Homo sapiens: one gene and its partners. The protein of the gene in region 1 interacts with the protein of each later gene in a pairwise test. Each region holds a gene or a part of one and is shown in the gene's direction. Other genes may lie near its edges. The genes, in order: PARP11, RNF11 and GTPBP3.

What was found.
Region 2: the proteins of PARP11 (region 1) and RNF11 interact in binary tests that used the Homo sapiens proteins (3 or more experiments, as listed by UniProt).
Region 3: the proteins of PARP11 (region 1) and GTPBP3 interact in binary tests that used the Homo sapiens proteins (3 or more experiments, as listed by UniProt).

What each region holds. Positions count from the first base shown.
Region 1 is NC_000012.12:3,824,778-3,828,530, reverse strand, and holds part of PARP11 (protein mono-ADP-ribosyltransferase PARP11), read left to right. Parts: intron 1-2,297; coding exon 2,298-2,373; intron 2,374-3,753. UniProt on the Homo sapiens protein: Mono-ADP-ribosyltransferase that mediates mono-ADP-ribosylation of target proteins. Plays a role in nuclear envelope stability and nuclear remodeling during spermiogenesis. Inhibits the type I interferon activated signaling pathway.
Region 2 is NC_000001.11:51,267,120-51,270,872, forward strand, and holds part of RNF11 (RING finger protein 11), read left to right. Parts: intron 1-2,836; coding exon 2,837-3,006; intron 3,007-3,753. UniProt on the Homo sapiens protein: Essential component of a ubiquitin-editing protein complex, comprising also TNFAIP3, ITCH and TAX1BP1, that ensures the transient nature of inflammatory signaling pathways. Promotes the association of TNFAIP3 to RIPK1 after TNF stimulation.
Region 3 is NC_000019.10:17,340,400-17,343,231, forward strand, and holds the end of GTPBP3 (5-taurinomethyluridine-[tRNA] synthase subunit GTPB3, mitochondrial), read left to right. Parts: intron 1-644; coding exon 645-923; intron 924-1,078; coding exon 1,079-1,304; 3' UTR 1,305-2,332; downstream 2,333-2,832. UniProt on the Homo sapiens protein: GTPase component of the GTPBP3-MTO1 complex that catalyzes the 5-taurinomethyluridine (taum(5)U) modification at the 34th wobble position (U34) of mitochondrial tRNAs (mt-tRNAs), which plays a role in mt-tRNA decoding and mitochondrial translation.

The sequences.
Region 1 (3,753 bases):
TGTTGCCCAGGCTGGTGTGCAGTGGCATGATCTCGGCTCACTGCAGCCTCCGCCTCCCGGGTTCAAGCAATTCTCTGCCTCAGCCTCCCGAGTAGCTGGGATTACAGGCACCCGCCCCCACACCCGGCTAATTTTTTTGTATTTTTAGTAGAGACAGCGTTTCATCATGTTGACAAGGCTGGTCTTGAACTCCTGACCTCCTGATCCACCCGCCTCCACCTCCCAAAGTGCTGGGATTACAGGCGTGAGCCACCTTGCCTGGCCAGAACTTTTTTACTTTAAGGATCAAACAGATGTTAAGTGAGAAAGTCATAGGTAGCTGGCAATAGTTTCAAGAACAACTTTTAGCTGAGTGATCTTTCTCTCGATGTCTTTGTCAGAAAACAATTTCTTTAATGGACATTGCCTTCTGTCATTTTCTGATTGATTTGGCTCTTCCACAGATTAGCCAGATAATCTGGAAATCAGCCCCACTTTGGATTTCATCTGTGTTATATGGGCATGTTTTGGGGTATCCCATGAAAAACCTGATGAACTGAGCTCCTCAAGTTTCAGGCTGTTAGTTTCAGCTATTTATTGCTTAGAGGCAAACAAGACCTGGATGGGAGGCTTTCTTAATAAAAGTACATTTTGTTTGCTACACAGCTTGGTCCTTTAGCTGTTCTTTCTCAATTCCTGTGAGTAGTGTCTTTATGACAGTGTTAGTAGTGTATTGTGGCTGGGTAGGGTGGTGAAACGTTAGGAAATCCCCTTGGATGAACCAAGGCCCAGAAACAGTGAAGGGGATTTGTCCAGTAAGGGATTGATGGAACCAAATATGCAATAATTATTATCCCACCAAAGTTGTTTTTCTTGCTTTTTTTTTTAATTATCAAGAGTTAAAAACCATTAGATCCTTGCTCGTGACAAGCCATTTTTTTTTTAATGCCATTAGGCAAATAAGCAGGATTTAAGAGGCCCTGACATTTGTCCCTCTGTTGCAGTCTAGGCAGAAGGTATCTGGTAGGCATTTTTAGTCATGTGTACAAGTATTTTTGAGGAAGAACTGAAACCGAATGATATGCACAGACACCAGACCTCATGTAGAGGATGAACTGTATCAAAGCATTTGATAGGTAATTCAGCAAGCCACATGTTTCTGAAAGAATATTTTTTAGTAGACTACACTTTTTGGAAACTTGCTCTCAGAAAAAAGAGTTTATTAAAAATATCATTATTAAGGAATGGGAGTTACATATACTAATAACTGGAGTTCCCCAACCCTCTGTGTAATGATCCTGTTTCAGAGGCATGGATATTAGCATTTCACATGTACTCTTTGCAGTTATCAGCTCCAACCATTCTGCCACTAGCCAACTCAGGTTTTCTCTATAAAAATGGTGAAAAGTAAACTAAAAAATGAGATGGTCCAAGAAGATGGCATCACAGGTCTTGCTCCACATGCTGAGATGATCTTGCTTTTTCCCTGAACAGTGGTAAATCCAGTATGTGTAGAGTCTAGGAGAACACAGAAAGGACAGAACACACTTTATACTAGCCTTAGCCTGGGTGGGTAAACATAATCATTTTGAAATGGAATGATGTCAATTAGATGAGATAAACTGGCTAGAATCTTACATTAAGAATCACTACTTAACTTTGAGGAATGAAGAAATGGACCTGGTAAATATTGGTATGACTGAGGCATGGATGAAAGCAGAAAATGATACCTTTAAGTACTTAGTCTCTTATCACTAGAATCTTTTTATGTAAGTTTGTACTGGGTCTAGCCAGGTTTTCTATTTTTTAGGTTTAGTTATATAATTAAAGAGAAATCAGGAAATGTAGAAATTTTTGAAATTCTGTGAGTTGTACAAGTTTTATAATCATTTCCAAAATTTTTGGAGAGATGAAAGTACATTTTTCTTCTTAATAAACCAACCACATTTAATACTGTAATTTCTCTCTTTCTAGTACTCTTAGCTTTCCTAAGTTTAGAACTCTCCTAGTTTAGTGTCTGTTTAACCTAAGTGTGATACAGAAGGGGAATAGACCGTGCATACTGAGCAGTGGATGAAATGAGCATCTTTATGTGTGAGCTTACGTCAAGCAATGAAGCTGTGCTTCCTTGAATAACACCTCCACAACGTGGTACATAGCTAGCTGCATGGTAAAGTACCCATAATACACTATGCTTGCCAGCTACTCCCGAAGCTCCATGATTCCTGATCATCGCGTAGCGTGGCTATTAATCTTCATGACACTTTATAGTACAGTGTACTTTTATGACTTATCTAATATCTTGTCTTTGTATACAGAAATGAAGCAAATGAATCTCACCACTGGAAAGCAGCGCTTAATAAAAAGAGCCCCCTTTTCTATCAGTGCTTTCAGGTATGGTAAAGAGAATAGGGGTGGAAAGAGTGGGTTTTTTTTTTCTTACTATTGGACAGAAAAACAAATAGACTGGAAATATTTTGGTAGGTCATTTAATAATATTGATCTTTTAAATATCAAATCTTGGGCCAGGCGCAGTGGCTCACACCTGTAATCCCAGCACTTTGGGAGGCCGAGGCGGCCTGATCACGAGTCAGGAGATCGAGACCATCTTGGCTAACACACGGTGAATCCCCGTCTCTACTAAAAATACAAAAAAAATTAGCTGGATGTGGTGGCAGGTGCCTGTGGTCCCAGCTACTCGGGAGGCTGAGTCAGGAGAATGGTGTGAACCCGTGAGGCGGAGCTTGAAGTGAGCCGAGATGGCACCACTGCGCCACTCCAACCTGGGCGACAGAGTGAGACTCCATCTCAAAAAAATAAACTAATTAATTAAAAAAATATCAAATCTCTCATTTGTTGACAAAATAGCAACATTATTATTTACTCTAAGTGCTTCCTTTCATGTTATCCTTTTCCTTCTTGTATATTTACATTTTTTAATTCTTTAGAACAGTTTGCAGTTACAAAATGCCTTATGGTCTCTGCTCTAAACTCATAAAATAACTCACTGAGGTAAGTTTAAATTGTTAACTTGGACGTACTCTCTCAGAGCCATACAATTACTGGGGCCGTAAGAATTAGGTAGTTGTTCACTTTGTTTCCACCTACATTGATCTCCATTGGTCAACTCCTAGAAGTAATTTCAAATTTGTAGAGACTAAGGGAGCCATAGGGAAGATGGTAGAACAGTGGACAACAGTATTGCTTTCTGTTCCCTGGAACTTGGTTACAAATTTTCTTTTTTGCTTGCTCTGGCCATAAGAAGTCTGAAAAAGGAGGTATAAATGTCAGAAGACAATACATATTTATTATTCATGTGAATGAATGGACTTGAAGGAAAAAATCTTAAAGCATGTCTCCTATTTTCTAAAATGACTCTTCAAGCAAGTATTGAAATTCTTTTTTGTTCAAATAATTTAAAATGAAACTGGAAAAAAAAAAAGGTAGCATGTTAATTGCAGGGAATGCCTATTTGCTCCTTCCAAGGAGATTTTTGAAAGGATTAAAGAAAGAAATATTTTAAGTTTCTGTCAGTTTGTTTCTCAAGACTTTTGGTTTTATTTTAGCATTTATTTTGGTTTTATTTTAGCATCACGATATAAAAGTTATTCCAAGTACTTATAAAATGAATGCTCTAGTACTTCTGTGGAATATAGAGAATAGTATTTCCTTACTAGCTACGTCATATCCACATTCTTTAGTACAAATAATATAATAAAAGAATTACTTATCTTCAGAAAGTATTTAATCTGGGAGAAAAATGAAAAATGAGAC
Region 2 (3,753 bases), on another chromosome or scaffold:
TCCCAGCTACTGGGGAGGCTGCAGTGGGAGGATTACTTGAGCCTAGAAGTTGGAGGTTGCAGTGAGATGTGTTTGTATACCTTTTGTCATTAGGTCCATATTTAGGCCCTGAAATAGGCTAATCAAAATATTTATTTATTTTTCATTTGTTTTCAGCTGGGGACGAAACACAGTAGCTTTGCAAATATAAAGTGGGAGCACAACCTAGCACTGGCGTTGGAGGTCCTCAAAACAGTCCCCAGGTTTGGTGATTCAATAGGAGGGCTCTTAGGACTTAGTATATAATCTTACTCACATCTATGATTTGTTACAGCAAAGAATCAAAGCAAAATCAGCTAAGGGGAAAGGTGCTTTGGTCTAAAGGGAACTAAGCACAAGCTTCCAAGAGTTATCTCCTAGTGGAGTCACACAGGACATGCTTAATTCCTTCAACATATATGAAAGGTTTTCTGCCAGAGAAGCTCATTTGGAGACTCAGTGCCCCAGGTACTGATTAGGCACCCACTGCCTAGCATATGACAAAATTCCTGATTCTCAGAGGGGAAGCAGGTGTTGAACATAAACCATATAGTGTTCGCAGATAGGGAATGGTGGGAACCACCCCCAAATCCATATCTTTTTTTGTTGTTAAGATGGAGTCTCTCTCTGTTGCCCAGGCTAGAGTACAGTGGCAAGATCTTGGCTCACTGCAACCTCTGCCTCCCGGGTTAAAGCAGTTCTCTTGCCTCAGCTTACTGAGTAGCTGGGATTACAGGCGTGCACCACCACGCCCAGCTAATTTTAGTATTTTTAGTAGAGATGGTGTTTTACCATGTTGGCCAGGCTGGTCTCGAACTCCTGACCTCAGGTGATACGCCTGCCTCGGCCTTTCAAAGTTCTGGGATTACACGCATGAGCTACCATGCCCAGCCATCACATCTTTTAAAATTGTTGTTTTTATACCCCTGTCTAATCTTCTACTCACTCAGTGTCTGTTAGCCAACAATTGAATCAGGATTCCATTTTGCTGCCTAGAAAATCAGTGGCTGTCTAGTTATGAAACAATTGATAACTCAGATATCAAGCCATTTTAAAACAAGTATCATGGGAATTAAAATTTAAAATTAGGCATGTGTGGTAAGAAGGGTGAGGCCACATTCATCTTTAAAATATCAGGAGGTCTTAGTCATTTCCTTTCCTCTATGGTTTTCTGAACCATGTAAACTGAAATTAGATTGTTCAATCATTTTAAATATCTAAAAGATATAGAGAGGGTTCCTTTGTTTTAACAAAAAAATACCAAAGGAGAAAATACACTCATAACGTGAATTAAAATATAGTTTTTATTTTCTTCTTTAATGTTTATTAATGTTTCCCCGTAAAGTAGAACTTTCCTTTTCTGTTCTGCTTTCTGTGTTCTCTACACGTATGTGAACCACAAGACTGAAGAAATCTAGCCTCTGAAAAACCCATAGTTGGAGTTTATTTTCTCTAAAACAATTTAGTTATTTTTGTTTGTTAGGTTCAAGGATTTAAGAGACCCTTTATATTATCTTAGTCTTAAACCAATTTGTTCCCAGTTTGCGTGTGGATGACAGCTCATCAAAACTGGTCAACTAGGACTGAGGCTAAGATTCAGGAAGGTAATTTAGACTGGAAATGGTAATTCAAGGGTTGAAGAACTCAGAGCTGGCAGAGATCACAACAGAGTCCAAGAGTTTGTAGTATTCAAAGAGAAGCCAGAAAGCCAGGACCAAAGCCAAGGACAGTAGCACTTAGCTTAAAGTCTGCAAAGCAGAGAATCATGATGGGGAGAATCATGACGTTGGGGAGATGTTAGAATAATTTACAAATATTGGCATTTACAAAGCTCTTAGTTATCTCATGATTATATCAACTCTTTAAAGTGGGTACTGTTATCTGCTTTATTCAAAGACATTAAGAGACTTGGTCCAAGCAATCACAGTAAGTAGCCGAGCTGAGACTGAAATCTTATAATTTAATTCTTCAGACTGAAAATCTCATCTTCTGAGATAGTAGTGTTTTTCAGACTGCTCTGTTGATTCTGAGGATTCTGCAAAGGTAACCAAGGTGAGGGCTTGGGGATGGGGAGCCTCATCCCTTCTAGGCCACACTCCATCCCAGCTTCATTCCATCAGAGTTGCTCAGTTTTAAATATTATTATAGGCCAGGCACCATGGCTCAACCCTGTGGCCCCACTACTCAGGAGGCTGAGGTTGGAGGATTGCTTGAGCCCAGGGGGTTGAGTTTACAGTAAGTTGTGTTTGTGCCACTGCACTTAAGCCTGGGCAACAGAGGGAGACCCTATCTCAAAAAAAGGTGGGGGTTATACACACGATTCCTTTGAATTGTTTTGTTGTGTAAAAAATCAGTTGGATTAGGAGCAGCAGAATTCTAATTTCAGTATTGTCAATTAGTGACTGTAGGCAAGCTTGGTCCTATGAAATGGGAAAGTTAGTCTTAGATAACTTTTAGATTTATTTTTGCCATAGTCCAGTCCATTTAAAAAGTTTTAAAAATTATTTTTAGAGATGAGGTCTTGCTATGTTGTCCAGGCTGGTCTCTTATCATGTGGAAATAGTTCATTTAACATTCCATGCCAGTTCAGTGAAGTCTGTGTTTATATCCTTTAGGCAGAATGAGAATGTTTTGGTGTGTGTATGTTTTATTCTAGTAGCTGAAGTTAAGGCAGGGTGAAACACAGTCATACAGCCAAACACTAGCCCAGCTTCCTACCCCTCCCAGGGCTCCCTTTCCCTTCTATCTCTGACCAAAAAATAAGCCCTCGAAAGGTTTTTAAAAAATAATCTTTTTCCTCTATATTTTAATATTTTAGGAACAAGTTCCAGTTCCAGTCTACCACCCAACACCTAGCCAGACTCGGCTAGCAACTCAGCTGACTGAAGAGGAACAAATTAGGATAGCTCAAAGAATAGGTCTTATACAACATCTGCCTAAAGGAGTTTATGACCCTGGAAGAGATGGATCAGAAAAAAAGATCCGGGAGTAAGTTTTAATTAATTTGTACATTTCAAAGTTTTATTTTCAGATTGCTTTTGAAAAATTTGCCTTTTCTCCTGCACTTTAGAAAGTCAGACATTTAATATATTGAAACACTTCGCTTAATGCAAGAGAATGTTTAATTTTTTTTCATAGCTCTATTACTGGCTACTAGCAAGAGAATGTTATGTAGTAATTAAGAATTTTCACAGGCCGAGCACAGTGGCTTATGCCTGTAATCCCAGCACTTTGGGAGGCTGAGGTCGGGGGATCACTTGAGGCCAGGAGTTCGAGACCAACCTGGCCAACATGGTGAAACCTCATCTCTACTGAAAATACGAAAATTAGCCAGGCATGGTGGCACGCGCCTGTAATCCCAACCACTTGGGAGGCTGAGGTGGGAGAATCACTTGAAACTCTGTCTCAAAAAGTAAAATAAAGTAAAATAAGAGAAAGTTAGTGTTAATGAAGAGAGCTTTAACTTACAGCAACCCAGTAAGTAGGCTGAAGTTAGTGTTTCTGTTTTTACAGTTATTAAAATGAAAATTATCTTACTCTAGGATTACTCTAAATAGCACAAGGAAACAAAGTTGCCCGAAGTTAGTGTTTCTGTTTTACAGTTACTAAAATGAAAATTGTCTTAGTCCAGGATTACACTAAATAGTGCAAGAAAACAAAGTTGATCTAACTGATGCTTTTCTACCTAAAATAATCCCATTCTCCTTCAGGTATCTGCTATAATATGTAGCTGTT
Region 3 (2,832 bases), on another chromosome or scaffold:
CTCCGCCCAGCCCTCACGTTCTGCCCCGCCCTCTCGTGCTCTGTCCCGCCCTGGCACTCCGCTCTGCCCCTTGCGGTCTATCCCATCCCCTGTGCTCTGTCCACCCCCTACATTCTGCCCCACCCCTGGTGCTCTCTACCCCTTACCCTGTGGTGTGTCTGGTCCTTCTTGCTCTGCCCCGCCACTCATGGTCGCCCCACTCCAGTGCTGTACCCGGCCCCTTTTGCTCTGTCCCAGCCCCTGTGCTGTGCCCTGTCCCTCTTGCTCTGCTCTTCCCCCTGCACAGTGCTCTGCCCCTCTTGCTCTGCCCCGCCCTCCTGTGCTGTGCCCCGCCCCTCCTGCCCTGCCCTACTCACTGCACTGTGCCCAGCCCCTCCTGCTCTGCCCCGCTCCCGCACCGTGACCGCTCCTCTTGCTCTGCCCTTCCCCCTGCACTGTGCCCCGCCCCTCTTGCTCTGCCCCACCCCCTGTGCTCGGCTTGGGCCCCCAACATTCTGCCGGTCCCCTGGTACTCTACTCCTCCCTCCCGACCTCACGCTTCGCAGCTCCCCCAGTGCTCTGCCTGGCCCCTCTAACTGTCCCTCCACCCAGTGCCTTCAATTGCTCAACCTGGGATCCCCGCTCAGTTGACCTTGCTCCCGCAGGCTAGAGCAGGCTGACCTCATTCTGGCCATGCTGGATGCTTCTGACCTGGCCTCTCCCTCCAGTTGCAACTTCCTGGCCACCGTCGTAGCCTCTGTGGGAGCCCAGAGCCCCAGTGACAGCAGCCAGCGCCTCCTCCTGGTGCTGAACAAGTCGGACCTGCTGTCCCCGGAGGGCCCAGGTCCCGGTCCTGACCTGCCCCCGCACCTGCTGCTGTCCTGTCTGACGGGAGAGGGGCTGGACGGCCTCCTGGAGGCGCTGAGGAAGGAGCTAGCTGCAGTGTGAGCCCCCTCCCACTCCCAGCCTCCCCTGACCCACAGTTTAAGTGTGGGTCCCTCAACTTCAATTTCTGAACCTACAAAATGGGTACAACCATTTCCCCTTCAAGGGATGGTTGTAAAAGGTCGGGAGAGACCATGTCTCTTGTCTCTTCCAGGTGTGGGGACCCGTCCACAGATCCCCCGCTGCTGACCCGAGCAAGGCACCAGCACCACCTCCAGGGTTGCCTGGATGCCCTCGGCCACTACAAGCAGTCAAAAGACCTGGCCCTGGCGGCAGAGGCGCTGCGGGTGGCCCGGGGTCACCTGACCCGGCTCACAGGTGGAGGGGGTACCGAGGAGATCCTGGACATCATCTTCCAGGACTTCTGTGTGGGCAAGTGACGGGATCCAGGGAAGTCGCACCCAAGCTGCGTGGAGACCCAGGAGCCTCGGGGGATCTGGAAACAGTTTAGGCCAATTGGGATTCTCATTCGCCTGGGAAAGAACTTGATTCTCAAATAGTGAAGCAACACAGCTGAGAGGTAGTGAGATCCCTGCAGGGACTCCCTGGAGATTCAGGCCCTGGAATGGGGCTGAATGGAGGTCCCGTTCGACCCTTGATGCTGGGGCATCCGGGTTGGGATGGAGATAGGAGGATCTCAGTATATTTGTTTCGTAGTTTTTTATTTATTTTGCAAATACCAAAGGAATGTAAAAAAAACTCAGGTGATCTAGAAGTGTTTATTTTCTTCCCTTCCCTTCCCTTCCCTTTCCTTTTCCCTTTCCCTTTCCCCTTCCCCTTCCCCTTCCCCTTCCCCTACCCTTCCCTCCTCTGTCTATTGCCCAGGCTGGAGTGCAGTGGTGCGACCTTGGCTCACTGCAACCTCCATCTCCGGGGCTCAAGCGCTTCTCCTGCCTCAGCCTCCTGAGTAGCTGGGATTACAGGCATGTGCCAGCATGCCCGGCTAATTTTTTTCTTTTTTTGAGACAGAGTCTCGCTCTGTCACCCAGGCTGGAGTTCAGTGGTGCGACCTCGGCTTACTGCAACCTCCACCTCCCGGGTTCAAGTGATTCTCCTGCCTCAGCCTCTTGAGTAGCTGGGACTACAGGCGCACACCACCACGCCAGGCTAATTTTTGTATTTTTAGTAGAGACAAGGTTTCACCATGTTGACCAGGCTGGTCTTGAACTCCTTGACCTCAGGTAATCTGCCTACCTTGGCCTCCCAAAGTGCTGGGATCACAGGCGTGAGCTATCACACCTGGCCCCAGAAGTGTTTCAACATGGAAATTTTCCTTAGCCCTTCTGTGGTTGTCATGGCTTAATGTGTGTCTTTCCAGAACTTTGAATGTTTGCATACTTGTGGATGTACCTTTCAAATATGTTTGTCTTGTGTATCATATATAAATGGTATTGTGTTCATTGCTCTACAAATTGTCATTTCTTTTTAAAAAAAAAACAGAATTATGGAGATGGGGGGTCTCACTATGTTGCCCAGGCTGGTCTTGAGCTCTTGGACTCAAGCCATCCTGCTGTCTTGGCCTCCCAAAGTGCTGGGATTACAGGTGTGAGCCACGGTGCCTGGCCTCATTCCTTTTTTAGTCTTTAGTCTTCTTTTTTTTTTTTTTTTTTTTTGATGGGGTTTCACTGTGTTAGCCAGGCTGGTCTTGATCTCCTGACCTTGTGATCTGCCCACCTGTGGCCTCCCAAAGTGTGTGTGTGTGTGTGTGTGTGTGTGTGTGTGTGTGTGTGTGTGTGACAGAGTCTTGCTCTGTTGCCCAGACTGAAGTGCAGTGGTGTGATCTCAGCTCACTGCAGCCTCTGCCTCCTGAGCTCAAGCCATTCTCGTGCCTCAGCCTCCCGAGCAGCTGGGATCATAGGTGTACCCTACCACACCTGGCTAACTTTTGTATTTTTAGTAGAGATGGGT